2 separate regions of the Homo sapiens genome follow, and region 1 is linked to region 2. The links come from fine-mapping of genetic effects on gene expression. A gene starts in region 2. The other region holds a variant in brackets. All regions are shown on one strand. Distances are between the middles of the regions. Region 1 overlaps JCAD (junctional cadherin 5 associated). Region 2 holds the start of JCAD (junctional cadherin 5 associated).

Region 1 (15,729 bases), 51 kb after region 2:
AGGAAACTTGCCATCCTCTCAGAATTGCTTTGTGGCGATAAAGCAATCGTCCGTTGAAACCATCTGTTTTTATAGCATGAAGATTTAATGCCTATAATTAGGAAGGAGTTTTCACAGAAACCCTCCCTCATGACAGATTTGACTAAGCTGGTAAATAGTTTGGTGTTGCTCTCATTCTGGGTGAAGATTTCAATGTGGAAGATCTAGCAAATGCTTTGGAAAGGCCTGTGAATGGTGTGCTCCCCTCTGTGTCTCCATGGCCTGCAGTCCATGCTCTTGTGAAGGAGTTTGGGACACTGGCTGTTGCCCGGTGTTTCAGCACTTTCAGTTTAGGGGAAATGTGAATCAATAGGTATGATCCATTTCTAATCAATTTGGCCTTCTGCTGCTGGAAGTAACTTTACTTATAAGTAACTTGCCATCAGAGAATAAAAGCAATATCTTTTAAGTTCCTGAAAAATTAAAACTTGTACTGTAATATACTAAGAGTATTATTTATCTGGCAGTGAAATATTTTGATCATTTGCAAACACGCCATTGTCTGCTTTGCACTCAGTATTATCTATTTTTATTTTCTGTATGGGTATTTAGAAATTCTTTATATGAAAAATAATTGCTGGTTTAAAATAGACCATTTTAACAAAGTGACTATATTTCTTTTTACGAAAATGCTATTTTTCTATGATGTAAACAATTGTTAGGCGGCAGATTTTTAAGGAAGTATTATTTTATTTAAGAGTCTGTATCCCTTTGTGTGAGAGGAACCCAAAGAGGGTTCACTTTTGCTTTAAAGCTCTGTCCCTTACCCACTGACAACTCTGCTACTTTTATTTTATCTTAGAAAATGTCAATATAGACATATCACAGGGTTAATAAAAGAAACTTTTCACAAAGATTTTTGTACAAGTGTAGCTATCAGGTTATATTTGAAAATAACCCTCTGAAAACCAGCCAACATTGTCATGACAATTTTTGCTGCCGTATCAACTAGAATTACCAAAAAACATAGTTTTATCTTTGTATGTGTGTGGGGATCTACCCTGAGACCATGCTTTTCTTCCCACCCTGCCACCCCACCCCTTTAAAGAAATACGTATTTTTATCTAGAATGATCTTGAATTAGTCTCTGCATATTTTTAGAAAGTGCTTGGGGACATTATATATATGCCATTACAAAAGCATTATGAGGCCTATGTATTCTACTGTGTTTAATACTGCATTAACCTGCACAAAGTTTATGCATTTTTTCATGCATTTTTTTCCTTCTTTCTAAGTAAGGTATTCCTGACAACTAACATTCCCTAAATCATTTCCCCTCCCTCCCTCCCTCCCTCCCTTCCTTTCTTCCTTCCTTCTGTCCTCCCTCCCTTGCTACCTCTTGCCCTCCTTCCTTCACCCTGTCCTCCTTTTCCCTTTTATTTTTTCCCCTTCTCTTTCATTTTATTTTCTTTTAGAGAAACCACCTTATCTATTTTTAGACATTTCGAATTCCTAAAATGTGAACCGTTGGGTGATCTGTCCTTTGGCCCTAAAACGGCTGGCCGGGCTGTCCCGGCCTGTTCTCATCTGTACCGTATGATTTTATTTCATAATAACTTTATGTATTTGGACTGTAACAAACAAAACAGAACCTAAGTCGCCCCGAAAAATCTTTCCAAGCCTTTTCAAAACACTTATCTGCAGTCCAGAATTCAGCTCTTATGAAAAGTGAGAGTGCACTCCAGTTTTCACAGCAGCAATAAGTGCGGGAAACAAAAAGATCCTCTTCCCAGGAAAAGTTGAGTGGGGAAGAGTTCAGACACTGTTGTAGCTGGTGAATCATTGAAGTCACCTGGTAGTACCAAATAAGGGCTGAGGCGCCTGGAGGTCTTTGTGGGGTCTTCCCTCTTTAAATGCAAACGTAAGAAGGTATATGTGTATATACATTTATATACGTGCACATGTATACTCGTACATGTATGCACACATACCCATACATGTATATGAACTCCGTTCTGATTTCCTCTGAAATTTTGTTGATACCATCTAAATACCTCTTTGAATCAAAATAACTTAATTTTAGCTCATTCCTCAAGAGAAAGAGAAGGATCCCCAAGGAAGAAAAACTGTTGTACCTTCTGTGATTCTCAAACCAAAATGTGATGCGCTTCTGTTTTGTTATCTTAAATTGTTGTATCATATCTTTCTGAAACCATTCTGAATTAAGTTGAAATTTTCAACATTTATACTTTAACTGTTCTAAATTTAAGCCTACATGTAAATCTTTTTTGGGGGGAAGGTAACTTGAAAAGTTTAACTTGAAAATTTGACCTTTAAACTTTCATATTCTAAGGTAAATAATAGCCTATAACCAACAACAGCTTTCCCAGAGGTCTTGAATTTAACACTAATTGTTTAGTTATTGTTTCTATTTCTCATACATACATAACTTCGTTTTTTGTGGCTGGAAGAAAAAGTTTCTATATTTTGTATTTGTCTTTGTTCTTCTCATGCACACAATTTACTGTTGGTGTTTAATAATTTGGAGCTCATAAAATTAAAAGTTGTAATTTTGACCATTTGGGCTAAAAATTATATGAGGGATTACATATGCAATGGATTAGTATTTCTTGATTTGCAAAAGAAGGGAAAATGATGGTAATTTAGCTCAAATTGCCTTTCTTTGAAGAAAATTTCTGAATGACTGAAAACCAAATATCTATATTATCACTTTCAACCTCATGTTTCTGCAAAGTACAGAAAAACTCCTCACTGACAGTGCACCCAGCCCCTGACTGGGTTTTCAGGATTATGTCCATGTGCATAACTGCTTGGATTTCTTCTTTTAAAGTCCCTAAAACATGAATCTGTTCTTTGAGATCCTGGTTTCCTTAGCAGAGTTGTAGGTTGCGGGTTTCATTCACGTGGAAATTCTAAGTAGAACTTTTGCTGCCCCATTTTACTGTTGGTGAAGGGCCGTTGTTAATGGAAGTTTACGTTTTAAAACTCAGATGACTCAGAAACCAGACTGTGATCATTTTTTGCAGCAGCAAAATGACTTATTCTGACAGCATCTCGGTTTGGGGCTTCTGAAGAAAAAGGATGAAGCTGATCTGTTGAAACAACTACTTTCCCAACTCGGAGGCAAAAGGGGCTGATAGAAGATAACATTCACCTACCATTTCATCTTGTGACCCCCAGAGATCACGTTTGCGTGTTCTGGCTGAGTTTTTTATTATTGTTTGTTTTAAATGATTAAATAATACACAATTAAATGTCAGGATAGCATCTCTTGCAAAGTGACCAGTGCAGCAGAATTGTCTTTCTATCCATATTTGAGCTTAGAGAAACATTTCCCATGTCCTAAGTTCTTAGAAGCAATTACTTTAGCGTTGGGGAGCATTGTTCTACCAGACCCATTTATGCAGGGGAGATGAAGCTTAAAAGACGGGATGTGGGGTGGGAGTGTGTTTCTTAAGCCGAAGCTGTTGCAGGCTGGGGGATTTTTGCATTTTCTTTTTGTTTTGTTTTTGACTGCAGATTCTGTACATCTGTCTGTGGGAGGAGAGTTGCTACTCAGGACAGGATTTAAGAGACACATTCCAGTGACCTTTAAGAATCTGCATGGCGGGAGGTCCTTCTCCAGGAGTGTGGGTTGGTCCACTCTGGGACCCACCACACTAAGAAGGGGGAGATGATAAAATAACATTAAAGGAAGAATGGCCTCCAGCCTGCAGGTTTTGTTGGAAAGAAATAAAAAGGGAGTCATTAAGACCATAAATTCAGATTGAGGCCTCTTGAAAAGGTTGATGTGGGCTAGCAACCTGCCTGTCGAAACAGTCCTTGGTTCATCAGCAGTGTGGGAAGGCAGCCAAGGCTCCTGCAGATTCCTGGCATCGACCTTGGAAAGCCTCTGCGATACTTGTGTGTACGAATACAGCAGAGGACAGGGAGGTCCTTGTTCTGTGGTCTCTGTTTAGTGACTGAAACTTAAACCCAAAGGCAAGCCCAGATTGTCTGGCCGTTCATCCCCATGCTTTGATAGGGGTTAGGAGGAACCCTTTCCGTATGAAAGACAGGCCCTACTAGGGCTTACAACCAAGCCAAAGGACCATCTCTTCTTTCTTCCACCTCCCTTCACCCCTGCCCCGCAGCAGAGCCGAGATGTGAGACATTCATTGTCACGGAGCAAGGAGACAAAGGCAAGTTCAAGTTGAGAAGCATATGGCAGCAAACAGAAATGAAAACCATATGTCCCAGCAAGGGGAAAAGCAGTCATTTCCAGATTATAAAAATCAATGAAGTACTCTCCACCTAGGTCAGCTGAAATTCGAGCCCTCACAGTCAGGCCTGTCAGAGAAGTTAAGCAGAAACATCTCGGGGGGACTTCTAAAATTTAGTGAAGACAAGGCCTTGCAACTCCAAAGAAACTTTTTTTCCCCCCCTTGAAACAGGGTCTTGCTCTGTTGCCCAGCCTGGAGTGCAGTGGTGCAGTCACGGCTCACTGCAGCCTCAAGCTCCTGGGCTCAAGCACTATCCCCACCTCAACCTCCTTAGTAGCTGGGACTACAGGTGCACACCACCATGCCCAGCTAACCACAGAAACTTTCATCTCTTCATTTTTTCTTTGGGCACCATTAATACCTAAGACAGGTAGAAAGGGTCCCAGAAAGACACCATTGGTAATGGCCGATTGCCGGCTGCAGTCATCGCCCCCAGATCAGGCTGGTACAGGATGCCTTAAGGTGATGAGAGGTGAGGGTGCATGAAGAATAATGAGCACAGGGAAGAGAGAAGCAGGACAAAGTAGCAGATAAAATGCCGGCAAAGCACAGATGAATGTCTTCAAGAAGCTCTTGTATTTCTCTGCACAGTGTAAATATCCTTGCTATTTCAGGATGGCGGCTGGCCTGCTCAGTAACATACATGTTCCAAATAAAGATTTTGCATGAAAGTACCTATGTCCGTTGTCTTTTACTGTGGGTGCAAGAGCTGCCCTAGAGGCTGGTTCCTGAAGGGCGGGCAGCAGGCTGCACGGGGAGCAGCTCAGATGGTGTGGGTAATGCAGGGACAGGTAGCCCACAGGGTTCCAGCACCTTTGGTCTCCACTGGGATTTCCCGGGAGTTAAAGCTCCTGTTTACATCTCCCCCAAGGCTTACTGACATTGTGGAAAGAGGCCTAGAGTTAATTTGGGAACTGGGTGTGAATATTGACTCTATCAATAACCATGTGACTTTGTACACATCACATCCCTGGCTTCTGTGTCCTCCCCAGCCTCTCCTACCAAAGGAACATAAGAATCCAATATATAGAGAACCTCCAGCACATTGTGGGTGTTGACTGCATGGAGAATGAAGCTAGAGCAGTGCCTTCTGGGGAAAATACTTGCCTGGAAGTGTTGTAGGTTTTACCATCCAGGCCTCTGTCTTGTAGGGCTATTCTGGAAGCAGAGGGAGACTCAGTGCAACATCATACTCTCCAATCGTTTCTATTGTCAGACCAATAAACCTCTAAGCTGTTGTTTCTGAGTTTTTAAAAACACGGTCCTTCTTTCCAGTGTAGGCTTCCTCTCTCTCCTGTAAGCTTTTGTAAGCTGTTTTCCTCATTTCTTCCTTGGCTCCACATGTGCAGAGCCCCAAAGCTTGAGTATCCCGGGGCCCTCTAAGTAGTATGAAATTTCAGATCACACTAAGATGTGTGTTTTAAAGTAAGGACTATCCCCTAGTTGGTTGATAAGTTAATCCACATATTAAAATATAACTGAAAAAAATCCCTTGACCACATTAATGCTAGAAGATGAAACACACAACCCAGGAATTGGGGGACTCATCCTGGGCCTGGCTCTGCCATTAACTAGCTGTGACATTGACCCCCTTTCCCTGGAACACTTCATCCTGTAAGTGGAGAGGGAGATTGAGCTCAGTTAGCTGGTTTCTTCCAACTCTAAGCTTATATAACTATTTTCTGGCAAACCTGAACGTCCATAGGGTCTTTTGTCCTGCCAGAAGGGTTCAAGAGTAAAACAATTGGAAAACTACGTCTGTACGTGACTGCGGACTGGGTCATGGCCAGGGTGGGAGTCCTGCCATTATTTCTCTCACCAGGGTGGTCCACTTCCCCCATTCCAGTAACTTATCGTGCATCTCCCCATCACCGTCGCTATGGCCCAGCCAAGGGACTGACAATATTGAATTCTCCTGACATATTTTTCTTACGTTAGGGCAGGGCACTAGGATGTTTATAAACTGGGCAGTCAGCCCAAGG[C/T]ATTAATCTGCAGTCACCCACATAGACTGCTTTTCTCACTATTTGGCTGCTGGGGTCCTTTTAAATACACTTAGTTTTGGAGATATTTGTGTCTCACCAGCTAAATCGCCTTTCTGCTTCTACCCCACACAGCAGTGTTTCCCCAAGTGGTCAGCTTGCAATTGACTGGCTGGAAAAGCTGCCAGTCCTACAGTCCTACGTTGCTCAGGGTTTTGGGGACCAAAACTCCATGGGAAACTGAGTGCTAGCCCATATGCCTCTGGTTTGGTTTCTGCTGGAAAGCCCAGCTTTTCTTGGAGTTAGATGAGATTTATTCTGGAGACCCTGGTCAATGTTTCTTCCCTTGACTTCCCCACTCTGTCCTGTACATTAACCGTGATTGTTTGTTGTAATTTTTTTTAATTTTAGAGATGGGGTTTCGCCATGTTTCCCAGGCTGGTCTCAAACTCCTGGGCTCAGGGGATCTGCCTGCCTCAGCCTCCCAAAGTGCCGAAATTACAGATATGAGCCACCGCACCGGCCAACCATGGGTTTTTCTACCTAATCTAACTCCACTGGTATATATATATATATTTTGAGATGAACCTTCACTTTGTTGCCCAGGCTGGAGTGCCATGGCACAATCTCAGCTCACTGCAACCTCCACCTCCCAGGTTTAAGCGATTCTCCTGCCTCAGTCTCCCAAGTAGCTGGGATTACAGGCATGCGCCACCACACCCAGCTAATTTTGTAGTTTTAGTAGAAACAGGGTTTCTCCATGTTGGTCAGGTTGGTCTCGAACTCCTGATCTCAAGTGATCCATCTGCCTTGACCTCCCAAAGTGCTGGGATTAGAGGCATGACCACCGCGCCCAGCCCCACCGGCATATTTCTGAGTTTATGATAGCAGGCTCAGCTTGTGTGGAAATAAACCCAAATCTGCATTTACGGGTTGAGCACCCCAAACCAATATGCTCCAGAGTCCAAAACTTTTTTTTTTTTTTTTGGTGGGGGGGACAGAGTCTAACTCTGTCACCCAGGCTGGAGTGCAGGGGCGTGATCTTGGCTCACTGCAAGCTCCCCCTCCTGGGTTCACACCATTCTCCTGCCTCAGCCTCCCAAGTATCTGGGACTACAGGCGCCCACCACCTCGCCCGGCTAATTTTTTGTATATTTAGTAGAGATGGGGTTTCATCATGTTAGCCAGGATGGTCTCAATCTCCTGACCTCATGATCTGCCTGCCTCGGCCTCCCAAAGTGCTGGGATTGCAGGCGTGAGCCACCTTGCCCGGCCAATCCAAAACTTTTTGAATGCCATGATGCCACAAGTGGAAAATTTCACACCTGACCACATGTGATGAGTGCACAAAATTATTTAAGATGTTATATAAAATTCCCTTTAGGCTACGTACCTAAGGTGTGTATTAAACATAGATGAATTTCATGTTTTGGCCGGTCGCAGTGGCTCATGCCTGTAATCCCAACACTTTGGGAGGCCAAGGTGGGCGGATCACTTGAGATCAGGAGTTCAAGACCAGCCTGGCAAACATGGTGAAACCCCCACCTCTACTAAAAATACAACAATTAGCTGGGTGTGGTGGTGCACACCTGTAATTCCAGCTACTCAGGAGCCTGAGGCAGGAGAATTGCTTGAACATGGGAGGCGGAGGTTGCAGTGAGCCGAGATTAGGCCACTGCACTCCAGTCTGCATGACGGAGTGAGACTCCATCTCAAAAAAAAAAAAAATTTTTTTTTGTTCAGACTTGTGTTCCAAAATATCTCATTATGTGTATGCAGATATCCCAAAGTCCAAAAAACTCCAAAATCCAAAACTCTTCTGGTCCCAAACATTTTGGATAAGGGATACTCAACGTATACCTAGAATTTTTTAAGTATTTAAAATAAAATGCACAACATGAAGAAGAGGGGAAGACAAGGAAACTAACATTGTTGGTTCCTTACTGTGGGCATCGCATATTATATGCATTAATTAATTTAATGCACACCATTTTGTGGGAGACAAAACAGGTACAGAGAGACTGAATTATTGCCTGCAGCACACAGCTAGCAGCCAAGCAGGGATTCAGACCTATTCACGTTAACCCCAACATCCATGCTGCTCCTTTTAGCTTGTTATATCCTAGGAGGATGACAGAATGATCCTCTATTTAGTCATGAAATTCAAAGGTAACACTCTTACAATGCTAAATGCATTTGTTAGGATTGGGTTAAGCTGCCTATGCCAGAAAATTGAAAATAGCAGTGGTTTAGGTGAAGTGGAAACTTATCTCTCTCACACTTCAAAGGAGCCCAGAGACAGGCAGTCCAGGGCTAGCACGGAAGCTCCTTGGCAATCAGGGATCTGGATTCCTTGTATCTTTCTTTTCCAGCATCCTTGCAATGGCTTCCATCCTGAAGGCAAGTAACCTCATGGTCCAAGATGGCTGCTATAGTACTGGCTATCTTGGACACTTTCTAGGCAGCTGACAAGAGGAAGAATTATCCTCCCAGATGAGTTAGCTTCCTTTAAAGAGACTTCCAGGAAGTCCTACACTCTTCTGCATATACAGTCAGCCCTCTACATTCACAGGTTCTGCATCCACAAATTCAACCAACTGCAGATCAAAAATATCAAGAAAAAGAAACAAAATAACAATACAACAACTTAAGAATACAACTATCACAGTATAATAACTACACAGTATTTACATCGTATTAACTATCATAAGTAATCTAGAGATGACTTAAAGTTTACAGAAGGACATATAAATATTATATGCAAATACTACATCATTTTATACAAGAGACTTAAGCATCCATGGATTTTGGTGTCCTTCAGGGACCTGATACCAATTGCCTGCATACCCCAGGAGGACTGTATTCCATCTGCAAGAATTCAGTCACATAGTCAAGCTGCAAGGGAGTCTTGGAAATGTAGTCCACTTAACTGGGCGCCGCTGTGGTTCTAAATAAGATCAAAGTTCTGTTGCTAAAAAAGAGTTACAGTAGTTATTGATTGGCAACTGGCAAGCCCTGACACAATTAACCCACCAATGAGCTGAGCATTAGCCCCAGGGCAGATGGAAGCTCACTAGACGGCAATACCAAGCAGCTTGTGTGTGTCCCGTGTCTCTGTGACTAACTGATGTGACCAGAACCTCAAAGGCAGCACGGATGATTTTGTCTCACCAAAAAATGAAACATGCTGCCCCAAAGAAAAGGGGGGTTCACATCTTTAATCCCCCCACTTTGGGAGACTCAGGAAGGAGGATCACTTGAGGCCAAGAGTTTGAGGCTGCAGTGAGCCAATATCGTGCCACTGCACTCCAGCCTGGGCAACGGGGAGACTTTGTCTCAAAAAAAAAAAAAAGGTTGGGGGCGGGTTAGTAGTGCCTTCAGTTTAACAAGGGAGCAGCCACAAGGCCAAGAGGGTTATCTGTAAGCAGTTGTCTGTGTAATTTAGTTCCAGGGTCTGTCAAGTGCAAACTCTCACATTCCTGGGAGATGCCCCTTCCATAGAGGAAATGACTTTGCCTGGACAGTGGCCCTTGCTGTTCATAATAGGGATACATGAGAAGAGGTGAATGGCAAACACAGGGGTCTAGATGCCAAGTTTCTGGGTTCTAGGAACAGCAGACCTCATCCATCATTGTGTGCTCTGCAGAGGAGGCTCTTCCCATTTTCTGCAGAGGCAGAGGCTGTACATGAGGGTCCTAACATCTTTAGAAGAAAACCATCAGGGCAGCTGGGGCAGGGGCAGCTGGTGGGTGAGACTGGGGTCGGGGAAGAGGAAGGGTTAGGACTAGATGACACAGAGAGGGATGGAACCACACAGACCCCTGCATCCTACTAGGAAGTCCCCAGGAAGGGCCTTTGTCACTGCCTTCCTGCCCGAGATGGAGCCCACAGCCTTGGAAATTCCAGAACAGGCCTCTCTGTTCAGATATCAAGTTTCACTCCTGAATGCTCTGCCTTTCTGTTTCATTCTTTCAGTTGGTCTCAGTTGCAGAGGAAGCATTCTGAACTCAGTTTCCTGGTTATTGAGATTTTTATTTATAGAGATACCTCTATAAATCCAGAAGACGCACCCCAGGAACAGATTTCAATTTTTTTTTTTTAAACGAGACTCTGTGACTAAAGGCAAAAATGAAACAGGTGCCAGAAGAAAGTGATGAAAGATATCAGGGGCAAAATTGTGTCCAAGGAGAAAGTTCATGCAGTACAAATTAACATGGCAGCAAATATTCTGAAGGATGTAGACTATCCCCTCGGTGGGTCTTCTCGATGAGGAAGGAGAGCCTGGGGGACTGTGGGGGAAGACAACTGCTGTATTTCATCACGCAGAAGGCACGCCATTTTATTTGCTTCATTCCAAAAAAGGAAGACAAGGCTATTGATGAAATTACTACTTGCCATTGATTATAAGTGCATTCCAATTTCAGAGAAGTTAAAATGTGAGAGAAAAAAAAAGTGCCCGTGCAGTTGATGAAATATGGTAACTAACCTTCATTCATTTGCTTTTTGTGGTTCGGCAAATATGCCTGTCCCCCATGCCTCCCGTGGAGTCCCTTGCTGAGCTGGTTCTGGAAGACCCTGTAAGACTTGCACTGCAAGAGCTCCCCGGCCATTACACACAAGCAATGGAGACTCTAGGGCTTTGGCTATCAAACTTCAACTTGTATCCCAGTGCCTGGAACGCGTTAAAAGAGAAAAAGATGCTGATTTAGTGCATCCGGCATGGGGGCCAGAACACTTCATTTTTAACTAGTACATACGTGATTTTAATGCTAGTGGTCCCATAGCCACTTGAGGTGTCTTCAGACACAGTACAATGGACCATCCACCAGCTCTCCTCTGGGTCCTTTATCTTGGCGCCGGTGTGTGTGCCAGTCATTTGTGCTGGTTGGCCTTCGCCTTCTCTTCTGTCAATTTCCATTCATCTGCCATGTCTGTTTGAGCCTCACGTTCCGCAGCAGCTCCCCTGACCTGGCCAGGTGAGGTTAGGCGGTTCTGGTTTAGGCTTCCCCTTCATACCACTGTAAAGACTGTAATGGAGAGTGCTGAAAGTATCAAATGTCACTGTCCCCTCCTCCTAGGCAACAGTGTCTGGAGGGTTTGGACTGTGTCTGTCTCGCAAATCCACAGGGGCTAACAAAATTCCTGGCACATATCAATAACATGACTTATCAATAAATATTTGTTTTGAAGCAAATTTGTGTCTAGGTATTAGACAAAACAGGGAGGCAGGGTACACCAGGTCCGCTATTTTATTTTGGTAGAGCAGGAGGTCCACACCATAGTACAACAAAAGTTTAGAACAAACAAACCTGGATATGTTTTCACCAAAATGTTAACAATAATGACTTCTGGAATTGGGGTTATGGGTATGTAGGTATGAATGGATTGCTTATCTGTATTTACTATAAAAAAACAAGTATTGCATGAAAAAAATTGGACACGTGGGATCACAGCAAGTTAAAAAGCCTCTGCACAACAAAGGAAACCATCAACAAAGTGGAGGCAACCCACAGAATGGGAGAAAATATTTGCAAACTAACCATCTGACAAGGGATTAATAACCAGATTATATAAGGAGCTCAAACAACTCTATAGGAAAGAATCTAATAAGCTGATTTCAAAATGGGCAAAAGATCTGATCAGACATTTCTCAAAAGAAGGCATACAAATGTCAAACAAGTATATGAAAAGGTGCTCAATGTCACTGACCATTAGAGAAATGCAAATCAAAACTACAGTGAGATATCATCTCATCTCAGTTAAAATAGCTTTTATCCAAAAGACAGGCAGTAACAAATGCTGGCAAGGATGTGGAGAAAGAGAATCCTCATACACTGTTGGTGGGAATGTAAATTAGTACAACCATTATAGAGAACAGTTACGGGGTTTCTCAAAAAACTAAAAATAGAGCTACCATTTGATCCAGCAATCCCACTGCTGGATATATACCCAAAAGAAAGGAAATCAGTGTATCAAAGAGATATCTGCATTCCCATGTTTATTGCAGCACTATTCACACTAGCCAAGATTTGGAAACAATCTAAGTATTCATCAGCAGACAAATGGATAAAGAAAACATGGTACATATACACAATGGAATACTATTCAGCCATAAAAAATAAAGAGATCTTTTCATTTGCAATAACATGGATGGAACTGGAGGTCATTATGTTAAGTGAAATAAGCCAGGCACAGAAAGAGAAACTTGGCATGTTTTCACGTATTTCTGGGAGCTAAAAATAAAAATTGAACTCATGGAGACAGAGAGTAGAAGGATGGTTAACAGGCTGGGGAGGATAGAAGGGAGGGGGGGAGTGAGGATGGTTAATGGGTACAAAAAATAGGCAGCATGAATAAGAGCTAGTATTTGATGGCACAACCAGGTGACTATAGTCAACAATAATTTAATTGTGCAATTAAAAATAACTAAAAAAGTATAATTGGATTGTTTATAACACAAAGGATAAATGTGGGCCAGGCGAGGTGGCTCATATCTGTAATCTAAGCACTTTGGGAGGCCACAGTGGGTGGTTCACTTGAGGTCAGGAGTTCGAGACCAGCCTGGCCAACACCGTGAATCCCCTCTCTACTAAAAATACAACAACAACAAAATAGCCAGGCATGGTGGCTCATGCCTGTAGTCCCAGCTACTTGGGAGGCTGATGCACGAGAATCTCTTGAACCTGGGAGGTGGAGATTGCAGTGAGATCACACCACTGCATTCCAGCCTGGGCAACAGAGCAAGATTCCACCTCAAAAAAAAAAAAAAAAAAAAGATAAATGCTGAGGTGATGGATACTTCCTTTATCCTGATGTGATTATTACACATTATATGCCTGTATCAAAATGTCTCATATACTCCATAAGTATATATAACTACTATGTACTCAAAAAATTAAAAAGTTAAAAAATTTTTACAGTAAAAAAATAAATAAATAAGGTTGAACTTTATAATCACCTAGCATATTGCAAAAATTATGGTGTGCCAATTCTGAATCTAGATCATAAAATACACTATGGCTTCCAACCTGTGCTCTTAGGGAAGCCAACTGCCATGTTGTAAAGGCGCTCCAGCACTCCCGTGGGGAGACCCACATCGTGAGGAATTAAGGCCTCCAGCCAACAGCCAACAGCCAACACCAGTTTGCCAGCCCTGTGAATGATCCCCCATGGACATGGATCTTCAAGCCCAAGTGGAGCCTCCACAGCCACTGACATTTTGAATGCAACCTCCTGAGAGACCTCCAAACCCTCAAGTTCAGCTACTCCTCTGTGCTGGCCCATGGAAACAACATGAAACAGTAATTGTTTATTATTCTTTTAAACTGCTGAGTGTGGGCCGGGCACTGTGGCTCACGCCTGTAATGCGGCATTTTGGGAGGCTGAGGGGGGCAATCACTTGAGCTCAGGACTTCAAGACCAGCCTGGGCAACACTGCAAAACCCTGTGTCTACTAAAAACATAAAAATTAGCCAGGTATGGTAGTATGCACCTGTAATCCCAGCTACTTGGGAAGCTGAGGTGGGAGGATGGTTTGAGCCCAGGAGGCAGAGGTTGCAGTGAGCTGAGATGGTGCCACTGCACTGCACTCCAGCCTAGGTGACAGAGCCAGGCTCTGTCTCAAAAAAAAAAAAAAAAAAAAAAGAGAGAAAGAAAAACCTAAAAGAAAACCTGCTGAGTGTAGAAGCAATTTGTTTTGCAGAAATAGAAAACTTATTAGGAGGTTTGACTTTGAACCTGAGAAGGTTAGAAAACAAAAGAAAAACTTGTAATTGCTACAGAGAAAAGAAGAAATATGAAGAATGGGGCTTGGAGCATTGATTTTGGTGGCCTCATAATTTTGCCATAGAGCCTGTCTTCTTTGTCTTCAACTATGGAAGGACAAATAGAAGCCATTGGAAGAGTTATTTCTGCCTGTGGGAAACGCCACATGCATGAACTTAGACGGCGCACTATGCTTGAATTATGCCAATCTTGTGCTGCACGATTTATACCAAAAATTTTATATGGCTATCTTTATTACAAAGGTAAGATCTGTTACTTTTAGGAGATTTCCTGCAGAGTTATAACTGTACCCATATTATATCTGGTTCAAATCCATCCCACATATATAAGGCTGTACCATGAAGATAAATAAGCTAAACCCAGCAGAAAATGTATTGCATTTACAATAGATCATCTTTATTAAGTTTGAGTGCTTCCAGTGAATGATGCCTACAAAGGGTTTCATTTTTCTCTTCATCTCGAGAAGTTTGAAGTTACAGAACCATTGCATAGACCCTGGAATCATATATTATACAATAGAGAGAAGATGCCTTCTGGTGAAAATAAAACGTGGTTATCAAAGGGCAGGTCTCTTTGATATGCCTCGCTCATGGCCGATCTAGGAATCTCGGGGTGGCAGGGAGGCACCCACTTCACAGACTGAGCTCTGCAATCAGGTGAATCACTTTTGATGTAATTTTGGTTTCTAAAGGAATAGTGACATGGGAGAGAACAGAAAATATACTTGAGGTTTGTGAAATCCAAGTTGAAAATCCTGTCAAGTATCAATACTTATCACTAGCCATTGAAATAAATGGCTTCAGAGGTGACAGATCATAATAATTGGTGTACAGAAGTCACTTTCAGAGGAAAAAGCTCCTTGTAGAGTGAAGCCTGCTGAAAGTGGCCGGCTGACCCAGGCAGCACAAAACTTCTCGGGACATTTTCATGTGGGGTCCCTTGCCCTTTGTGTAGGAGAGGCCACTCAGTGGGAAGTGGCCCATTCTCCAGAGTGGGAAATGCCGGACTCTGTTCTGCTCCCCATGGGAAGGCGAGGGGCTGACCTCTTGTGCAAGCTGAGCAGAGGTAGCCGCCTGCTGGCATTTCAACGCTAGAGGGCAGCGTACGTGCATGCCAACGGAGGACAGGTTCACTGAGCCCCACATCCAGGCGGGTTGTGCTAATTGCTTGCTGTTTTTCCTACAAGCAGAACCTGCAGACCTGTCTACCTAAAGATCTAGTTGGAAGTACTTTGCTGCGACAGGCTGGCAGAAAAGAGAGGCTTTCAGGGGCTCTGCTCTCTGGACCCCAACTTTATTTCTAAAAATGTGAAGATAACTCACAAGTCCTTTGTTGGAAGCATATCTGGGCCTCAGAGCCAGATAAGATCTGCAATGAGTTGGAGCTTTGTCACTTACCATGCGATGCAGGCATGTCACCCATAGAAAGGGTTGTTGTGAGGATTAAATAAGATGATGTGTGGGAAGGGCTTGGCATAGCACAGTGCCTGGAACTTGCTAAGTGTTCAGTGAGTGTCGATCAGCAGTCATACTGTGCACCAGGAAAGAGGTCCAAGCCAAGCTGGAGCCCCTTAGGAGACAGTGTAGGAACTGGGGCTCCTACATGTCCCACTCCCACGGGAGCTCAGTGAGAGCCCCTCCAGGGCCAGAGACCCTTGCTGACACTTGTTGAACAACAGGGAGACCTCAAGCCACAGGCCACAG
Region 2 (15,729 bases):
TGGCTGTTAGTTTGGCCCTGTGATTAATGAAGGCCAAATAAACAAACTAAGTCCAAACTAAGAAAACACAGTTAGGGCAGGGATGAACAGTGTCTTCTACCAGGTATTCGGAATCCAGTAGCTGAACCAAGTATCATGTAAGCAAATCCAAGATATGCCCTGATAAATGCAGTACTGCACCAGCAGCTTCCATGTGTGATGGGAGTTTGAGGGAGGCAGGTGACTAATGAAATGGAAAGTTTTCTTTCACAGGAGATTTACATCCTCTTTTTTTTTTTTTTTTTTTTTTTTTGAGACAGAGTTTTGCTCTTTCACCCAGGCTGGAGTGAAGTGGCACAATCTTGGCTCACTGCAACCTCCACTTCCTGGGTTCAAGAGATTCTCCTGCCTCAGCCTCCCAAGTAGCTGGGATTATAGGTACCTGCCACCATGCCCGGCTAATTTTTTTGTATTTTTAGTAGACATGGGGTTTTGCCATGTTGGCCAGGCTGGTCTCGAACTCCTGACCTCAGGTGATCCACCTGCCTCGGCCCCCCGAAGTGCTACGATCACAGGCCTGAGCCACCGCACCCGGCCGTACATCCTTTTACACTTAACTAGAAGACCACTGTCATGCACTGCATAATACTTCAGCCAACCATGGACCACATCTATGATGGTGGTCTCATAAGATTATAATACTGTATTTTTACTGTACTTTTTCTATGTTTAGGTACACAAATAACACTGTGTTACAATTGCCTGCAGGATTGAGTAGAGTCACTTGCTGCATGGTTTGCGGCCTAGGAGTAATAGGCTATAGCACGTAGCCTAGGTATGCAGTAGGCTACACCACCTTGGTTTGTGTACATGCACTCTAGGATGTTTGCACAACAATGAAATCACCTAACAACACAATTCTCAGAACGTATTCTCATCATTAAGTGATGCATGACTGTACTTCAAAACCATACAACCCCGCTAGTAAGTGCTACCCTTTTGTACATCGAAGGACATAAGTCAAGGCCTAGCCCAGTGCCTGGCACATAAGAAACATTAAAACAAAGATAGTTCTTGGCCAGTTGCAGTGGCTTACGCCTGTAATCCCAGCACTTTGGGAGGCCAAAGTGGGCAGATAACCTGAGGTCAGGAGTTCGAGACCAGCCTGGCCAAAATGGTGAAGCCCTGTCTCTACTAAAAATACAAAAAATTAGCTGGGCATGGTGGCACATGCCTGTAGTCCCAGCTACTAGGGAGGCTGAGGCAGGAGGATCGCTTGATCCTGGGAGGCGGAGGTTGCAGTGAGCCGAGATCGTGCCACTGCACTCTGCACTCCAGCCTGGGCAACAGAGCAAGTCCCTGTCTCAAAAAAAAAACAGAAAAAAGGTAGTTCTCATCTCTCCCTTCCACCTTGTATTGCTAGGCATCACTGACTTAATAAAAGCCTGATACACCATTCTCTCCCCAAATGGAGGCATTCTTTTTACAATTAATGTAGTTCACAGTTATTTGCATAGTTCTTTTTTTTTTTTTTGAGACAGGGTCTTGCTGTGTTGCCCAGGTTGGAGTGCAGTAGCATGATCATGGCTCACTGTAGCTTTGAACTCTTAGGCTTAAGCAATCCTCCCACCTCAGCCTCCTGAGTAACTGGAACCATAGGCATGTACTACTATACCTGGCCATTTATTTTTATTTTTTAGTTTTTTGGAAACAGGGTCTCACTCTGTTGCCCAGGCTGGAGTGCAGTGATGCCATCTTGGCTCACTGCAACCTGTGCCCCCTGGGTTCAAGTGATTCTTGTACCTCAACCTCCTGAGTAGCTGGGACTACAAGCACATATTTTTTAGTAGAGAAGGGATTTCACCATGTTGGCCAGGCTGGTCTTGAACTCCTGACCTCAAGTGATCTGCCTGCCTCAGTCACTTGAGGCAGGTGTGAGCCACGGAGCCCAGCCTATTTCCCATTTTAAAAACAAAAAGTCATATGGGGTTAAAAAATGCTTGAGTTAATTTTGATTTATTCTTGATTAGCTGGTATGGAATGGTGGGAGAGGCAGCCCAAGGGGTGCCCACGTCTGGACCACTCTGGTGCTGGCCACACCCCTGTCTGCTTGAAGCCACATTGGCATCCCCCCGGTACCAGCGGGATCCCTGACAGCCACTGCCATTCCCTGGAGGGCACCACCGCTCAAGAGGCCTCCTTATGAATTTGGCAAAGAATTTTATAAACTGCAGGCAGGGGGAAGCTTGGAATGTCTTTCTACCACTAGTAAACAGCAGCTCTTTGCTACGGTGAGTGTAACAGAGTTGTTTTCCATTAATATGTGGCTTTACGTGAGAACAAGCTGACACGAGGAGAGCAAACAATTAGAAATGATTTTTCTCATGCAGTAACTATGCAGATTCAATCTCCTCACAGTGGAGGTATAGGATTGAAAAATTGTTTGTCACTCTCTTCTTGGTCCCCAGCATTGTAGGTTTTGTTTCAGTTAGCGTCAAATCTTCTAAGCCAACAGTAAACATCTAATGCACTTGATTAGTGAAGGATGTTGCTATGTGACTCTCCATCATCATACAATGACGTTCACGGCTACTGTCTTTGCACTGTATACTACGTGTCAATCAATCCATTCCTCTCTTGACACAGATCATTTCTATTTATTGTGCTCCATCCCTGCTTCTCACACTTTACTGTATGTGAGAATCATCTGGGCATTTCCTTAAAGTACACATTCCAGGATCTCAAAGGTAGAACTTAGAAATTCTGATTGCATCGGTTTGATGAGGCCCAGGAATTTGGCCTTTAGTCAACTCTCCCTCCCCCAGTTGATCCTGGTGTAGGTGGTCCATGGAGCAGACTTTGAGAAACAGATTTCTAGTTCTTGGTTAAAAATAATTATGCAGGGCTGGGCATGGTGGCTCATGCCTCTAATCCCACCACTTTGGGAGGCCAAGGTGGGAACTTTGCTTGAGCCCAGGAGTTCAAGACCAGACTGGGCAACACAGGGAGAGCCCGTCTCCGCAGAAGATACAAAAATTAGCTGGGCATGGTTGTGTGTGTCTATAGTCCAGTTACTTAGGAGGCTGAGGGAGGAAGATGGCTTGAGCCCAGGAGGTCAAGGCTGCAGTGAGCTGTGATCACACCACTGCCCTCCAGCCTCAATGACAGAGTGAGAGTTCATGTCAAAAAAAAAAAATTATGCGATATAGTCTGTGAATTAATATAAAGCATAGCAATAACTAAAAACAAGTGTTATTAGCACTTGTTGACATAAAATCCTTTCTAGATTTTTTTCAATTTGGCAGCTTTTTATTTATTTATTTAATACATATTAGATGTAGATATTTTCAGGATCCATGTAATAATTTGATAAATTCATATAATCAAACCAGGGTAATAGGGACATCCATCACCTTAAATATTTATCTTTTCTTTATGCTAGGGACATTCAAAGTATTCTCTTCCAGCTATTTTGAAATGAACAATTGGTTAATGTTAACTATAGACACCGTACTGATATATCAAATGCCGGGTCTTATTTCTTCTAAGTGTATATTGTATGTATTAATCAGCTTCTTTTTATCCAAACCCACCCTTCCTGGCCTCTGGTACCCACCAATATACTCTCTATCCTCACAAGATCCTTGCCAGTTTCTGTGTAACCACTATTGCCTGACTTTCTAAAACAAGCCAACAAGAGAGACCTCAAGGTTTTATCGAGAATGTGGGGTTTTGGCCGGGCACGGTGGCTCACGCCTGTAATCCCAGCACCTTGGGAGGCCAAGGCGGGTGGATCACGAGGTCAGGAGTTCGAGACCAGCCTGACCAACATGGTGAAACCCCGTCTTTACTAAAAATACAAAAATTAACCAGGCGTGGTGGCACGTGCCTGTAATCCCAGCTACTCAGGAGGCTGAGGCAGGAGAACTGCTTGAACCTGGGAGGTGGAGGTTGCAGTGAGCTGAAATTACACCACTGCACTCTAGCCTGGGTGATAGAGCGAGACTCCATCTCAAAAGAAAAAAAAAAAAGAGAGAACGTGGGGTTTTTTTGGTCAATGGGTACAAAGTTTCATTTAGGAGGAATAAGTTCTGGTGTTCTATCTCACAGAAGGGTAACTGCAGCTAACAAGTGTATTGTATATTTCAAAATTGCTAGAAGAGAGGATTTTGAATGTTCTCAACCCAAAGAAATGGTAAATGTATAAGGTGATGGCGTATTAGTCCTTCCATTGCTTATAACAGAATACCCGCAGGTGGGTCATTTATAGAGAAAAGAAATTTACTTTTTACAGTTATAGAAATTTATTTCTTGTAGCTGAGAAGTCCAAGGTCAAGCGGCTGCATCAGGTAAGAGCTTTCTTGCAGGTGGGGACTCTGCAGAGTCAACCTAAGGTGGTATAGGGCATCACATGGTGAGGGGCTGAGCATGCTCACATGCTAGCTCATGTCTCTCTTCTTCTTATAAAGCCACCAGTTCCCCGCCATGATAACCCATTAATCCATTAACCCATTAATCTATTAATCCATGAATAGATTAATCCATTCATGAGGGCAGAACCTTCAGGATCCAATGATCTCTTAAAGATCCCATCTCTTGGGCTGGGCGCAATGGTTTTCACCTGTAATCCCACCACTTTGGGAGGCTAAGGCAGGCAGATCGCAAGGTCAGGAGTTCGAGACCAGCCTGGCCAACATGGTGAAAACCCAACTCTACTAAAAATGCAAAAATTTTCTGGGTGCGATGGCACTTGCCTATAATCCCAGCTATTCAGGAAGCTGAGGCAGGAGAATTGCATGAACCCTGACGCGGAGGTTGCAGTAAGCCGAGATCACGACACTGCACTCCAGGCTGGGCAACAGAGCAAGACTCCATCTTGAAAAAAAAAAAGATCCCATCTCTCAACACTGCCACATTGGGGATTAAGTTTCAACATGAGTTTTGGAGGAAACAAATATTCAAACTATAGCAGATGGATATGCTAAACACCCTGATTTAACTATTACAGAATGTATACAAGCATCAAAACATCACACTGTACCCCATAAATATGTACAATTATTATGTGTCAGTGAAGACAACAAATTTTTTTTTTAAAAGAGCGTTAATCTTTTAAAAAATGAGAACTGGTAGTGTCTTTACAGACTAAGAAAAACAAAATCAATATCTAAATCAGCTAAAGGAAACCTTATAGTCTACAGAGAAGGGCCCTAAAGCAGGGAGGGAGGAGGGTTGCTCTAGGTCCTTGAACAGGCAGTAAGTTAGAGAAACAAGATCTTGGCTTTTATTTTTTTTCTTTCTTTAAGCAGGCGGTTAAACATTATTTTTCTGGTTACTGCACATCTGCCCAATGACTCAATAATCCAAGTTCCTTCCTGAGTCTGTGAAATCCCTTCTCCAGGACTCAAGAAAGGCGGGGACATTGGGCATCCAGGGCTGGATCCTGGCACATGCTCCCAGGGCTGTGCCAGACTTCTAACAGCTTCATGTTAAATGCTGTTTTCAATCATAGTTTATATTTTACATCACATAAGCGAGTTTTTTTTTTTTTCCTGTGTTTAAATCTCCCAAGATCAAGTAAGTGGAAGCAAGAGACCCAAATTGCAGGAAAATGGGAGTGGGTAGGGATAAGGGAATTAGGAGGTTAGGCTTGTTTCTCTCACGTCTTGCCCACCATCCCTTGTCCATGTACTGGTGACCGGTGTGGAAACTGGCCCAGTGGATTTTCCTCATTACCTTTTATCTTTATTATCTTCCTACATTTATGATTAATCACCTGCTCATACTCATGCATCTTTTCAACCTTACTCTCTGATATGGTTTGGCTCTGTGTCCCACCCAAATCTCACCTTGGGTTGTAATAGTCCTTACGTGTTGTGGGAGGGACCCAGTGGGAGGTAATTGAATCATGGACGCGGGTTTTTCCCATGCCGTTCTTGTGATAGTGAATAAGTCTCATGAGATCTGGTGGTTTGATAAAGAGTAGTTCTCCTGCACATGCCCTCTTGCCTGCTGCCACGTAAGGCGCGCCTTTGCTTCTCCTTTGCCTTCCACCGTGATTGTGATGCCTCCCCAGCCATGTGCAGCTGTGAGTCCATTAAACCTCTTTCCTTAATAAATTACCCAGTCTTGGGTATGTCTTTATTAGCAGCATGGGAATAGAATAATACACCCTCTTTCCTCTTTGTTAATTCTATTCCCAGATCTTTAGAAAAGCTTTCCACCTTTCTGCTTGCCCCTCTCCCCACATCCACAGCCTCACCACCATCTTCTCTCTCCATCTTTTCATTCTGCTTCTTTGTTTGAAATGGCCTTAGTCATGCCAGGAAAACATTAGAGCAGGGCTAGGGATACATCAGTACTGAGGAAAGACGGAAGCCAAACATTTTGAAATGAGGATGTTAGGATAAAGAGCCAGGGTCAAGAAACTACAAGCATCTTGAAATTGTGAAGTCATCTTCTCTAGAATCTCCAGTATTTCAATCCCATTACATTCCCCTAATTGAATCTGCCTTTGCCAGCCTTTCTGCTAAAATACAATTTCTTATTAAACTTGATTTGGTTTGGTTTAGCTTAGCTCCTAGCATTGAATCAGTGTTGTTTTCTGATTTACTGCAACCCTACTCTGTTGTTTTGCAACTCTACAGCCCTTAGGTACATTATAAAACTTCCATGGGGTTGACCTAGAAACCCAACAATATGACATTGTTCTGTGGGGAAACACATCCTAATCTCAATTCACTGACTGATAAATGTTCTAGCAGGAATACTTGGCTCCCTAGGTGTCTGCACCATGCTGGGCACATAGAGGTGCTCCACCCCAGGACAAAGTTATTTCATTGAGTTGGCAAATTGAGGAGAAACAGGAATTCTATAAGTCATTGAAGAAATCCATCATCGAATGATGCTTTTTTGACAAGAAGTAATATCACTGCTGTTAATAACTGTGACTCCCCAGAAAAAAAAAAAAAAGTCTGCATTTCCTTTTCTATCTTTTAAATTTTGTCGAATCCTATTTTCCCAGCCTTTGTGTCTCTCCCTAGCCACAATCCACTTGTCCTTCAAAGTCTTCCCTGGTGGTTCCAAGTCAAACAGCAGTAGCTGTACAAGTGTTAATGGTAGTAGCTACTATTTTCTTTTCTTTCTTTTTTTTTTTTTTCTTGAGACAGAGTCTCACTCTATTGCCCAGGCTGGAGTGCAGTGGCATGATCCTGGCTCACTGCAACCTCCACCTCCCGGGTTCATGTGATTCTCCTGCCTCAGCATCCCGAGTACCTGGGATTACAGGCACCTGCCACCACGCCCGGCTAATTCTGTATTTTTAGTAGAGATGGGGTTTCACCATCTTACCCAGGCTGGTCTCGAACTCCAGACCTCCGGTGATCCGCCTGCCTTGTCCTCCCAAAGTGCTGGGATTACAGGCATGAGTCACCATGCCCGGCCACCATTTTCTTGACTATTACATGTACCTGAACTAAGTGATAAGAAGGCATCATCTCATTGAATTCTCATGACTCTCCTATGAGATGCAAACCATCATTACCCCCACTTTGTTAGAGAGGAAAGTGAGGCTAACAGAAGTAAAGTACCACATCTAGAAAGTGGCAGAGAAGCCAAGCCCGGGACCTGAGCTACCTGGTTCTCGAGCCCCTAATCATGCTGCCTGCTCCTATCGCCACCATCTGGTTTCCTCCCACGCACTCCTGATAATGCACAATACAACATTCAATTACATTGTTCGTTCTTTTCCAGCAATAGTGTGTTTAGCTTTTATGCTGTGTTAGATTATACGTTGCTACTAACCATGAGGAACATATGATTCAAGAGAACAAAGAAACGACCTTGCTCTGGTGGTTCAGAGCGAGGGTCTTGGGCTAGATTCTGCAGCTTGCCATCTGTGCCCGTCCCTGAGCCCACTCCTCATCTGTAAAGTGGTGCCCATATCATCAAACTGTGATGAGGATTAAAAGAAATAATACATAGGAAGGGCTCAGATGTGGTAATAGAGCAAAAAAAGTTAGTTATTGGTGTTTCGACAGCAAATACAGTCCTAAAATCATGATGTGGCTAAGTAGTTTTCTGAAAACTAATTTGGCAAGGTCACCAGTCTGCTGTGCCATCCATGTTTTGTCTGGGTGGACTTAACTAACATTCCCTGTCTCTCCCCAATGCATCAGCAATATTTCACATTTTTTGTCTTCTGTCTGCCTTCCAAAATTATGAAAACGTTCGCCCTGAGCAGACCCAGGCAGCAGTCTAATCTTTCTGCCCCTTCCCGCTGTAAGAGAAATATGGAGTGGGTTTGGGGTTACCCAAATGACCCCAAATGTTCATTCTGGTCTGAACTCTCCCACTGACCTCCTCCTATCTCTCCTCCTACCCCTGCCCTGTAGGCAAATCCTGCTCCTGTCATCAGTTTCCTCCTCTGCCACAGGAGAGTATGGGCCAGCTGATCTGAAGGTGGCTTCCAGACTCCTTCAGACTTTTTTTTGAAAGAAGTAAATCCCAAGCTGTTGTCACCATCACTGTTTTCTGCTCTTCATAATATCGATGTGTTATGTGGGTGCGTTTGTGTGTGTGTGTGTGTGTGTGTATAGCCATACTGTGTTCCCATGTATGTATGTATATGTGTCAGTGTGTTTGGCTGCATCTGTGCGTGACTGTATATGGGTGTGTTTGTGTGCACCTGCGTGTGACTGTATTTGAGTGTGTGTGCACTTGTCTGTGACTGTGTGTGCACCTGTGTGTCCTGTATATGTGTTTGTGTGCGCCTGTTTCCTGTGAGTGTGTTTGTGTGCATCTGTGTGTGGGTGTATATGAGTGTGTTTGCATACATCTTTGTGTGTTTGTGTGATATGAATATGTTTGCTTTCTGTGTATCTGTGAGAGTGTGTGTGTCTTTGGACATTTCCACAGGGTTGACGTGGCCCAAACCCAAGTGACAAGAAAAGAGGGAATGGTGGTCAGCTCACTTGTGCCTTCTGCGCGACCCACGCAGGCGGACCCCAAAAGCCTAGGAAGCTCGTGGCCTGGATACCGCCCTCAGCGCAGAGGAGGCAGCCCCGGGCGGTGGGCGGGGCGGGCCCGGGCGGTGGGCGGGGCGGACGGCGGTTCTCCGGGCATGCTCGGCCTCGGCGGCTGCAGGCGGGGCGGGTCGCGCTGGTCCCCGGCCGGCCGGAGCGGCGGCGGTGGCGGCGCGAGGCGGCATGAGGGAGCCGCTCGGTAAGTCCCGGCGTCTAACCCTCCTGGCTCCCACCGTCCATTAGGGCCGCTCCCACGGCGCTTCGCGGGCCTCACCCGCAGCCTCCCGCACTCCCCCCAACTTCTCCAGCTGGGACGTCGCTCCGGTTCCAGCCACCCTGGCGGTGGGGGATGTCTGCACCCCCAGTCGCAGCCCCGCCTGGGCCCCCCGCGCGGTGCCTAGCCCGGCAGCCTCGGGGTGGAGGGCGCCTGCCAGCCCGGGAGGGGCGTCCCCTCCCCTCAGGTGCCCCGCTCGGAGCGCGGGGGTCCCGGGGCGGGCACCGCGGGCCGCGGCTGGCGTTAGCGCTCGCGTCGCCCCTCGGCGCGCGGAGGGCCTGGGGGGCCGGGGTCACTCACTCCCCTCTCGAAGTCGCCCTCCCCAGCCTGTGTCCACCAACCCCTCCCGCGCCCTCGCGCCCAGATCTCGCGGACCTCACCCCAGAGCTGACAGCCGCCGCGCTGGGTCCCCGAGGTCCCAGTTCCCACGCTGCCCCGGCCGTCTGGACTGCCCGGGACGGTGGGGGGCTCCCGCCGCGGCCCCGCTCCCGCTCCGGTCTCTGCGCGGTCTGCGCTGGGGATTAGGGCGCTAATCGCAGCTGCCTCCCAGCGAGTGCCCGGGGCCGCCCGGCTCCTGGCTGCGCGTGGGATGGGAGAAGGGCAGGAGCCCCGCCTAGGAGTGCTGTAAATCCCGTTAATTATCTCATTTATGGGATCTGGAACCCGCCCTCCTAGGGTCTCTGCGCTCAGATCTCCGCGGGCACCCTCTACTTCCCCCGTCTCCAGTCGGGGTCCGTTCACCCCCAAAATGCCAGGGTTTGCCTCGATGCCCTGGCCACAGTGGGGCCCAGCACTAGCTGCTAAAAAGCGCCCCTCTCGCTTCCGTCAAGAAGCAGAGCGCCTGGGATTCTTCTGGGCATTTGTAAAGAAGCTGTGATTTCACTACTGAAGAAGAAAATAAAAACGAGAACTTTAGGCCAGCGCTACCTGGGCATGCCCTGGTGTTTGGTCATCCACGCGCTTAAGGAGTAGAGAGGCCTTGGGGGAATTAGCTTGGGCACATCACCTCCCCACACCTACACCCACTCTCCCACCCCCGCACGCACTCCACCCGCCTCCCGTGTCCTCATTCCCTCCCCAAATCTAGTAGCTTGGTCTTAGTCTTGGGGAGAGGGGTGGGGCGGTGCAGACCACACAACTCCCAGGGTTTCCTGTCCTGACAGTTTAATGTGATGTTTCTCCCACAACTTGTTTTCCTTCTCCGGTCTTTTGTCTTTTCAGATTTACAAGGAATAGATAACCCAGAGATTGAGGGCTAGGGTTGCAAAATACAGGGATTTGGGGGAAGGGGCCTGATGGGTAGGATTCGGGCAGCCAGAAATGCTCTGGCAAAAAAAGGCAGTCTGCATGGTGTGAACTGAGGGTCATGGGCTGTACAGGTAAAACTTTGGGAATGTCAGTTCATTTTAGAATTTTAAGACCACCCGGCAAAGCAAGAATGCATACAGGCTTTTTTGGAAATCATATGCAGATTCTATTTCATTGGACTTGTGTTGGTTTTCGTGTGACATTGGGAGTTTGTTAAAGTGGTTTGGTTTTCCATAACGTCTGTGGATTGGGACTTAATTATTTACCTTGACATTAGGTGTCTAATTCTTAGTCACCAGCTTAACAAGCTTCCTGAAGTCTCTAAGTGTCACTGTGGGCATGCAGCATGTAAGAAACTGTTACTCCGCCTGGAGTGGGCGAGCAAATATTTGTTGAACAGAGGCCTTTAATCTGCTGGGCCTTCCTCCTGTAAAACTTCACCCTTTGCTGCAGAGACTGGAAGGTCAGGCCCTTGGCAGGCCCAGGAGAATTAGGGGATTTGGGTGGGTGGAGAAAGCCTGTTTCGGGGAAAAAAGAAGTTTGGCCTGAGTGTCCACATGCTCTGGATGACTTGACAAAGTCATCAGGGTTATCAAATAGCTCATCGAGTGGTCACAGATTCCAGAAGCCTGTGGTCTATTGTTCGGCAGCTATAAAATGTAGCAGGGTTGGAGGTACACAAGGAAAATAAATAAGGACCAATTTTTTCACTTAAAAAAAGTAAATATGAAAAGATTCTTGTAGTCTAATTTTTAACATGCAATTTAAAAATAAATCCTAGAAATGTTATCAGTACAGAAAGCCCAGAAGTCTGTGGCTCCCCCAAGTTCTCACTGGCCAGTTTGGGAGGACAGTAAACACCAGTCATCCTTAGGAGTCCTTAGTTTTTCTTTTAATGAGCTTGGCGAAACTCCATGCTAATTAATCTGGAGAGCGTTTAGAACACAGAGCGTTGGAGTGAAACAATTGTTCTATTGTGTTTTTTATTTTGATAAGCAAAGACTATCTCTCTGAAGTCCTCTGGGCCTATTGCTGAACCCATTACTGCAGTTTACTTGGGTTTTTAACAGATGTTGTTTTTCCTCCTTTGGATGAGAAGGGTTATCTCTCTCATTAAAACCTTGCTCTTGTGCTTTGTTTCAAGGGCCTGCTGATGGAAGGAATGTTGAGGTCCACTGACTTGCAAACGCCAGCAGCCCAGGGAGGGGAGGTGTTGGGCTTTGATATATGCTTTAAACACTAAATGGTGTTTAGAAAAATACAGGAACCCCTCCCCCAGATACTAAAACCTCAATTATCTTGATTTGAATTGAAGATGTCTTGTTAAAAATTTGGATTATCTATAACCAAATATCTTTCCCAACAACTTTCTATAGATATGCTTGGGAATAGCCTGGTTAAATCAATAGGCTGGCAGATTTGTTATCAGATCGTGAAGTATCCTTATAGTTTTGGGCTTATTGGTTGTCTTTATAGTTTACCTGTAAAGATTGTTTTTTCTGTATGTAAATGAAAGAATTTAGATACTATTAGGAAGAAGCACCAAGATACATTCCAAAGAAGGAAAGAAAAAAAAAAAAGCAAGCAACTTGTCTGTGTAGGAAGAATAGTTAGAGAAACAGAAACCAGATTGTTGCTACTGGTTATCTCTTGGCACAGTGGGGTTACTAGGAACTTTTCCTTTTTACTTAAGCACTGAGTTTTGCAGTGTTTACTTTTGAAATCACTTTACATGACTTTTGTACTTAGGAAATAAATAGAAATGTAAAGATCATATGAAATAATTTAAGTCAAACACTTTGATAAAGACTTGGCTTTTTTTTATTCTGAAGATATTTAAAAACAAAACCAAAAGAAGGGTAAGTTTAATGGAATATTTAAGGTATCTTTACATGTGGAGCTTGACATACATGATGATAAGGGAATAAAACTCTAACCTATGATGATGTTTTACAGCTATTTTTGCAAATAGCCAAAAATTCCAAAAGATTTAAAAATCTTATCCAGTTTGAGTCCTTTCTTAATGACTTCTAATCTTTCAGAAATGTTAATGAGGTACTTAAGGTCTCATAAAAATATTGCTAGCCAAAGCAATAATTGTGTGACACAGAATTTAGAGGTGAAAGAGAAGACAGGAGAAAGAGTGTGTGTAAGTGCATGTGTGTGTGTTCACATTAGTTGTGGAAAGAAAAAAAAGAGGAGTCAGAAGGGATAATACTTAGGAAAAAAATTCAGTGCATAATGTTGGGGACTTTTTTCTTTTTCTTTCTCTTTTTTTGAACAAATGCCTTAATACCAATCCACCCCAGCAAGATTAATGTTCCAAGGTCCTTTTGATCTTAGACACAAGTTTTCCAACTCATTTGTTTTTTGTCACCTTAAAGAAACCTAAGGATGTCCTCCTAAAATGATTACTTCACAGATTAAGTATGATTTTTTACATCTTGTGAGATTTTAACAACTTGACTGCCTTGGCAGAGTTGGTCATCACACGTGTGGTATGGTAACAGCAGTCTGTGAGAACTTGGTGTCCCAGGACTTCAACTGGGACTGTTGCGTTATTTAATAATTAAGACTGGAAAGGGAAATAGCAATTCTATTGTTCATAGTAAAATACACAATTCTACCCTTAGGAAAAAATCTGTGGAAAGCATTAAAAACCTACGTGTCAGTTAGCAACATACTCCATTCTGGTTTGTTTTATGTCTTGGTGATTTACCTCTTGTTTAAAGAAAGTACTTTGTTATATATTAATCATAGCATTAGACCTAAATGTTGTCAGTTGAAGAGATATTTACACTGAACTGCCAACAATTTGAGGGACCAATTACATCTTAAGCATGGAATGTCAGTGAATACAACTGAAAAGTTTTAGGTCTTTTAGAGGAGTAACAATGTCTAATTAAGACCTTTTTAGAATGCTGGTTGTAACCTTGTATTAGATTTCTTCAGCAGCACATGTGATTTTGGCTTCCTGAAAACAGGTTAAGAGTCTCTCTGGCAGATAAGGCACATGTACCATATACTAGAGCCTTATGTGATTTACTACTCATTTATTCTTTTCTTCAATGTTTCTTTTATTGTCATTGAGGCTTCCAAATACCTAACCTATTTTTAAAGATGCATTTTCGGCCGGGCGCGGTGGCTCACGCCTGTAATCCCAGCACTTTGGGAGGCCGAGGCGGGCGGATCACGAGGTCAGGAGATCGAGACCATCCTGGCTAACACGGTGAAACCCTGTCTCTACTAAAAATACAAAAAATTAGCCGGGCGAGGTGGCGGGCGCCTGTAGTCCCAGCTACTCCGGAGGCTGAGGCAGGAGAATGGCGTGAACCCCAGGGGGCGGAGCCTGCAGTGAGCCGAGATTGCGCCACTGCACTCCAGCCTGGGCGACAGCGAGACTCCGTCTCAAAAAAAAAAAAAGATGCATTTTCCTCATCTAACCTAAGCAGCATTTCATTTATGAAAGTTTTTTTCTGATGATGAAATAGTTATATATAACTTAATTAAGTTATGTAATATGTTAATATATTAAGTTATGAATAATGATGATTGGTGATGAAACAATATTGTTATATTAAATTATATAATAAGAATGTGGATATTATATATGTTGTTATATATACTTAAGTTAATATTAAGTATATAAAGTTAAGTATAGTAAGTATATGAAATTGCCAATATTTGACTATTTTTGACCTGCAAAATGACAATTTCATATGATTGGACCTAATACATTTCATGACAGAATATCATAAGATTCAGTAAAGTATAAATAAGGAAATTTTTCAAAAACTCAGAGTCCATCACCTCTGCTGACATTTTGGTATGTTTCCTTTCAGTGTTTTTTCCCCTTTCAAGTACATATGTATATAAACAAATTTGGTATGACATTGAATCTAGGGTTCTGTATCCTGTCTTTATTATTTAGCGTGGTATCACGAGCATTTCCCTGTGCTGTTGTATACCTGAAAACATAATTTTATGTATGTGTATACATATTATAGTCCACTATATGGATGCACCAGAATTTTTTTTTGAGATGGAGCCTCATTGTCGCTCAGGGTGAGGTGCAATGGCACGATCTCGGCTCACTGCAACCTTTGCCTCCCAAGTTCAAGCCATTCTCCCACCTCAGCCTCCTGAGTAGCTGGGACTACAGGCGCATGCCACTACACCTAATTTTTCTTGGATTTTTAGTAGAAACGGGGTTTAACTGCGTTGGTCAGACTGGTCTTGAACTCCTGACCTCGGGTGGTCTGCCCACCTCAGCCTCGCAAAGTGCTGGGATTACAAGTGTGAGCCACTGCACCTGGCCCAGAATTTTTTTTTTTTTTACTAAATTAGACATTTAGTCTAATTTTGTTATTATCATAATTAAAACTGGGATAACTATCCTTATACAAAACAGTGTGTATCTCTGATTATTTCATTAGGACAGATCCTAAGAAGTGAGATTATTCCATAGGGTTTCAGATGTTTAAAGATTTTGTTACATATTAATAATTCTTTTCTTTTCTTTTCTTTTCTTTTTTTTTTGAGACAGAGTATCCGCTCTGTCACCCAGGCTGGAGTGTAGTGGCACAATCTCCGCTCACTGCAGTTTCCACCTCAGGTTCAAAGGATCCTCCCACCTCAGCCTACTAGGTAGCTAGGACTACAGGTGAGCGCCACCACGCCTGGCTAATTTTTGTATTTTTAGTAAAGGTGGGGTTTCACCATATTGGCCAGGCTGGTCTCTAACTCCTGACCTCAAGTGATATGCCTGCCTCAGCCTCCCAAAATGCTGGGATCAAAGGTGTGAGCCAGTGAACCTGGCTAATCACTTTTAAGAAGGGAAATACTCATTTTCATTTACATATAGCCTGCACCCCCCACCCCCCACCATTTATACACACACAAACAGGAGAACCCTTATAGCTCCTCATGCCCTTACCAACAACAAGCATTGCTTTTTAAAAGCTTTAATCATCTCATAAGTGAATAATGGCATTTTGGTTTAATTTGCATTTCTTTGATTACAGGTGAGGGTGACCATGCTTTTCATCTTTTTAATAGTATATTTGTCTCTCTTTTTAAAGTTAATTTTTAGTTTGTGTTCTAGGCCAATTTTAAAAAGGAAAAAAGTTCTGGTTGATTTAATGA

What was found. PIP is the estimated chance that this variant, and not a neighbour inherited with it, causes the effect.
Region 1: its variant is fine-mapped to the expression of JCAD in lung (TOPMed, PIP above 0.99).

What each region holds. Positions count from the first base shown.
Region 1 is chr10:30,002,007-30,017,735 of GRCh38, reverse strand. JCAD (junctional cadherin 5 associated) reads left to right here. Exons shown (of 4, transcript NM_020848.4): 4 at 1-4,933. Among named protein-coding and RNA genes, the nearest start is that of JCAD, 50 kb to the left of the region's middle. The variant C/T (reference allele first, on the strand shown) is at 6,245.
Region 2 is chr10:30,052,954-30,068,682 of GRCh38, reverse strand. It overlaps JCAD (junctional cadherin 5 associated), which reads left to right and starts at 9,097. Exons shown (of 4, transcript NM_020848.4): 1 at 9,097-9,201. It overlaps LOC101929256 (a long non-coding RNA gene), which reads right to left and starts at 9,845. Exons shown (of 4, transcript XR_001747405.2): 1 at 9,657-9,845. RefSeq lists silencers at 5,249-5,543, 8,985-9,154 and an enhancer at 11,439-11,976.